Linked DNA regions of Homo sapiens: region 1 is linked to region 2. The links come from fine-mapping of genetic effects on gene expression. A gene starts in region 2. The other region holds a variant in brackets. All regions are shown on one strand. Distances are between the middles of the regions. Region 1 overlaps CES4A (carboxylesterase 4A). Region 2 holds the start of B3GNT9 (UDP-GlcNAc:betaGal beta-1,3-N-acetylglucosaminyltransferase 9).

Region 1 (2,500 bases), 150 kb after region 2:
CCAGCCTTGCCCCTCTAAGACCCAGTCCTGCGACCACACCCCCTTCCTTGGAGTTAGCTCGCCCCATCCAGATGGTATGGAGCGCCCGCCCCTTCCACCGAGCGCCAGGCCCCGCCCCCGCCTCGCGGCCCCACCCCCCCCATCCCCGCCCCAGGCCCCGCCCCTCCCTTCCCACCCAGTCCCCGCCGCTCTGGCCACAGCTGCGGTCCCAAAGGGTACCGGCCCCGCCACCTCAGGAAGCCGAAGATGCCGAGCCTGTGCTGCAGAAACACCAGCACCACTTTCTCGCGGGCGGCCAAGTCAGAGCCCTCGTACGAAGAAGCAGCGCCCACGATGAAGGCGCCTCCCGGGAACCAGACCATCACCTGGACGAAGAAGGCCGGGATCTGAGCGGGGCGGTGGGCGGCGGTGGGACCGCGGGCGCGGGAGACCTGGCACTCACTGGCAGCTGGGGATCCCCGGGCGCGCGCGCCGGCGCGTACACGTTCAGGTACAGACAGTCCTCGCTGAAGCGCAGCCACTTGTACCGTTCCCGCGTGCTGACGTACATCGAGGCCAGCTGGCCCCAGGACTCCTGCAGGCACCTGCGGGCACCAGGTAGCGGCGGCGGCCGCGGGGAGATCGTTTCAATCCAGGGTCCGCAGTGAGAAGACGGAACCCAAAGCAAAATCCAGGCAGCGTCTGTGCGCGTGCGTGTGCGTGCGCATGTGCGTGCGTGTGCGTGTACAGGAGGCCTCCGCCAGCCCCGGGGCCCAGGACTGGGAGGCAGGTTGGCCTCTCAGGAACCATCCCCTCCCTGCCCGGCGCCTCAGTCCGTGGAGAGATTCCTGCTCCTGTTGGTGCTGTCAAGGCAGGAACCTGCCTGCCCTGGGCACCTCCCTGTCTTTCATGCCCCACCCTCCCCTCAGTCTCCCTTCTGCCTCCCAAACAGCTCTGGAATATGGTCCCTCCCCTCCATCCCCATCTCTGGGGAGATGTCAAGGCCACCACCGTCTCTGGTCTGGACAGTACCCCAGCCTCTTCACACTCCTCCTACTCCTCGGCCACACTCTGGCGGACTATGTCACTCCTCTTCTTCATATCTTCCCTAATATGTACAACTATGATATATCAATAAAAACAAACAAATCAACAAAAATCTTCCCTGGCTCTCCACTGCCCTCAGGATAAAGTTAAGATACGCGGAGTACCCAGGCCCTCCTTTCCATCCAGTCATCTCTGTCCCAGCCACCCTTTGCTGTAGATACATGTGGCCCCTTGCCTCCCACCTCCAAGCCCGTGGGCCTCAGTCCTCTCAAGCAAATGCCTTCTGCCCTGCCCAGCAAACTCCTATTCGTGTTTAAGGCCCAGCTTAAGTGGTGTCTCCTCTCCTGGTCACTTCCTCTTCTGTGCCTCCCGACATCCTGTCCACTTATTTTTTTGAGACAGAGTCTTGCTCTGTTGC[C/T]CAGGCTGGAGTGTAGTGGCACGATCTTGGCTCACTGCTACCTCTGCCTCTAGGTTCAAGCAATTCTCCTACCTCAATCTTGCAAGTAGCTGGGACTACAGGCACGCGCCATCACACCCAGCTAATTTTTGTATTTTTAGTAGAGTCGGGGTTTCACCATGTTGGCCAGGCTGGTCTCGAACTCCTGGCCTTAAGTGATCTGCCCACCTCGGCCTCCCAAAGTGCTGGGATTATAGGCATGAGCCACCATGCCTGGCCTCCTGTCCGCTGTTGACCATGTCCTGGTTGGAGTTATTTCAGTTGGCTGTTTTTCTCCCCAAGTGACCATGCACTTCCCAAAGGCAGGAATAGAGGTAGATTCATCTGAGTACTGGCACCCAGCCCAGTGCCTTATACTGTGTGGATATTTGGGGTATTTTTGTAGCATGGGCTCTCCGGCCACCTCACCTTTTCTCCTTGCTGGCCCAACCCCTAGGTGGCTATTCTCATAACAGCTGGGCCTGGACCATTTGATTGGGCGCAGGACACCCTGTTTGCCTCGCCTGTTCCTCTGCTCCCTTCTGCTCTTGTCCTAGCCTAGCCTGTTCCCAGAGCATCACCTGCTCCCTTTCACCAGTCCTTCCCTACAGCATTCCAACACTCCTTTGGCAGCAGCTAATGTGGTATTAGAATGCTGTCTAGTAAACCACACCTAGCACCTCACCAGGAAAGCCAGGGCTCTGATAGCTGGGAACTGGGATTATGAACAGCCAAGGCTTCTGTGCCCATCCCACCATCAGAGCCATCCTGCCATGGTCACCAGTGACATCCATCTTGCTAAATCTCTGTCATTATCTTACTTGCCCTGACAGCCCTCAACATGGTTGACCATATTATATTCCCCTTTGCTCTATCTCCTCTCTTTTTTTTTTTTGTTTGAGATGGAGTCTCGCTCTGTCGGCCAGGCTGGAGTGCAGTGGCACCATCTTGGCTGACTGCAACCTCTGCCTCCTGGGTTCAGGTGGGAGATATCAGCTCACTGCCTCAGCCTCCTGAGGCACATGCCACGACACCTAG
Region 2 (3,005 bases):
AGTCTCGCTCTGTTGCCCAGGATGGAGTGCAGTGGTGTGTTCTTGGCTCACTGCAACCTCCACCTTCCAGGTTCAAGCAATTCTCCTGCCTCAGCCCTCTAAGTAGCTGGGATTACAGGTGCCCACCACCATGTCTAGCTAATTTTTGTATTTTTAGTAGAGATGGGGGTTTCACCACGTTGGCCAGGCTGGTCTTGACTTCCTGACCTCAAGTGATCCACTCACCTCAGCCTCCCAAAGTGTTGAGGTTACAGGCATAAGCCACCACACCCAGCCAGAGAGGTGGCTTTTTAAGATTGAACATTGGTGGGAAGAAGCCGTCAGGAGCAGATATAGCCCTTGGACAGAGGATGGGGCTGGGTTCTTAAGAGACCAGTAGAGGCTGTCTATTCCAGGCTCCACCACATGGGCTGGGACCAAGAAAGAGAGAGCTGGCAGCTGAGCTGCGCAAGGACTTAGCTCTCCATTGCAGAGCACCTCTGTCCACCTGCATCCCAGAGCAATCCTTTAGCCAAGGCCTCCGCCAGGAGTCTTCCCAAGCTGTCCCCATCCTTGCCAGCCCTGTCTGACCTGCAGCTGCACAGGCCTGATCATTTCTACCTGCAGTAGGCTATGCTGGGGACCAGGGGACTCAGAACTGCACCTGGCTTGGGCTCAGGTCCATTAGCCCCCGGGGAGACAGGCTGAAGTGCTTGCCTGTGAAATTAAAGCAGACTGGGTTGGCCCCCTGTTCTGTATCCCAGTGGATGAATGAGCGGGGCAAGGACAGATAAAATAATCCTGGCCTGAATTTCAGAAGACCTGGGGGCAGAGCTTTCTGGCCTTTGGATCCTGGGCAAGTCACTTAACTCCCCGAAGAGCCCCCCAGTGTCCCCATCTGGGCATGAATGAGAGCTGCTGGCAGAGTTGCCCTGAGGATTGGGTGGGCTGCCTTGTTTGTCCCGTGCGTGTGTTTACTGGGGGTGGGGAGCATGGCAGAACCAGGAGTAAGAAGACAGCCATGTGTCTCGGGGGCAGCGTATGCACCCTGCCTGATGGAATCAGGGCTGCTGAGGAGAGGCCCGCCCGGGATGGTGGCCAGGTTCATGCGCATTTGGAACCGGCCTGCTCAGGGGCTCCTAGCAGCCCAGGCTCCGCCCCACTCCAGAGACGCGGGAGTGGGGAGTGGATAGTTGGGGGAGCTAACCAGGGGAGTTGATGCTTCTTCCCAATCCCCAGAAAGGCGAATTTGGGGTGTGAGCACCCAGACCAGCCCTTCCCAGAGGGACTGAGAGTGAGGAGGCTCCCTCTCAGGGATTAGTCCCCACTCTGAGGCCGGAGTGCTCCTGGCGCCGGGGCGGAGCTGAGCTCCAGAAGTCTGGGCGCGCACAGCTGGAGGGTCACGTGGCACGGCACCGGTCCCCCTTCCTGCCAACGCTGCATTTGGCTCGGGCCCGGTCCATGGCGGCCCCTCGGACCCTGCGCTGAGCCCCGGAGGCCAGGGCGTCCGGGGCTGCGCCACTTCCGAGGGCCGAGCGTGAGTGTCGGGACCCCAGGGCCCGACATTGAGGGGATGGCAGGGTGGAAGGGATTCGGCCTCAGCGCGAGGGAGGCGGGCGGGGGAGGGGCCGAGGCTCCCAGTCTCCCTGCCCGGCCCTGGGTCGCAGTCCTGGGCCGGAGCTGAGGCCGCGGGGGAGTTGGCTACATGGGTGAACTTCTTGTCCCTTCAGGCTGCCGGTCCCGGCGGTGCGACACGGCCGGGAGGAGGAGAACAACGCAAGGGGCTCAACCGTCGGTCGCTGGAGCCCCCCCCGGGGCGTGGCCTCCCGCCCCCTCAGCTGGGGAGGGCGGGGCTCGCTGCCCCCTGCTGCCGACTGCGACCCTTACAGGGGAGGGAGGGCGCAGGCCGCGCGGAGATGAGGAGGAGGCTGCGCCTACGCAGGGACGCATTGCTCACGCTGCTCCTTGGCGCCTCCCTGGGCCTCTTACTCTATGCGCAGCGCGACGGCGCGGCCCCGACGGCGAGCGCGCCGCGAGGGCGAGGGAGGGCGGCACCGAGGCCCACCCCCGGACCCCGCGCGTTCCAGTTACCCGACGCGGGTGCAGCCCCGCCGGCCTACGAAGGGGACACACCGGCGCCGCCCACGCCTACGGGACCCTTTGACTTCGCCCGCTATTTGCGCGCCAAGGACCAGCGGCGGTTTCCACTGCTCATTAACCAGCCGCACAAGTGCCGCGGCGACGGCGCACCCGGTGGCCGCCCGGACCTGCTTATTGCTGTCAAGTCGGTGGCAGAGGACTTCGAGCGGCGCCAAGCCGTGCGCCAGACGTGGGGCGCGGAGGGTCGCGTGCAGGGGGCGCTGGTGCGCCGCGTGTTCTTGCTGGGCGTGCCCAGGGGCGCAGGCTCGGGCGGGGCCGACGAAGTTGGGGAGGGCGCGCGAACCCACTGGCGCGCCCTGCTGCGGGCCGAGAGCCTTGCGTATGCGGACATCCTGCTCTGGGCCTTCGACGACACCTTTTTTAACCTAACGCTCAAGGAGATCCACTTTCTAGCCTGGGCCTCAGCTTTCTGCCCCGACGTGCGCTTCGTTTTTAAGGGCGACGCAGATGTGTTCGTGAACGTGGGAAATCTCCTGGAGTTCCTGGCGCCGCGGGACCCGGCGCAAGACCTGCTTGCTGGTGACGTAATTGTGCATGCGCGGCCCATCCGCACGCGGGCTAGCAAGTACTACATCCCCGAGGCCGTGTACGGCCTGCCCGCCTATCCGGCCTACGCGGGCGGCGGTGGCTTTGTGCTTTCCGGGGCCACGCTGCACCGCCTGGCTGGCGCCTGTGCGCAGGTCGAGCTCTTCCCCATCGACGACGTCTTTCTGGGCATGTGTCTGCAGCGCCTGCGGCTCACGCCCGAGCCTCACCCTGCCTTCCGCACCTTTGGCATCCCCCAGCCTTCAGCCGCGCCGCATTTGAGCACCTTCGACCCCTGCTTTTACCGTGAGCTGGTTGTAGTGCACGGGCTCTCGGCCGCT

Evidence for each region. PIP is the estimated chance that this variant, and not a neighbour inherited with it, causes the effect.
Region 1: its variant is the best candidate, but not a certain one, in a credible set for the expression of B3GNT9 in tibial nerve (GTEx, PIP 0.53).

The regions. Positions count from the first base shown.
Region 1 is chr16:66,998,722-67,001,221 of GRCh38, reverse strand. CES4A (carboxylesterase 4A) reads right to left here. Exons shown (of 14, transcript NM_001364782.1): 3 at 443-584; 4 at 232-365. Among named protein-coding and RNA genes, the nearest start is that of CES4A, 11 kb to the right of the region's middle. RefSeq lists an enhancer at 1-216. The variant C/T (reference allele first, on the strand shown) is at 1,445.
Region 2 is chr16:67,149,376-67,152,380 of GRCh38, reverse strand. B3GNT9 (UDP-GlcNAc:betaGal beta-1,3-N-acetylglucosaminyltransferase 9) reads left to right here and starts at 1,383. Exons shown (of 2, transcript NM_033309.3): 1 at 1,383-1,516; 2 at 1,710-3,005. The coding sequence starts at 1,896. RefSeq lists silencers at 1,428-1,587, 1,598-2,027.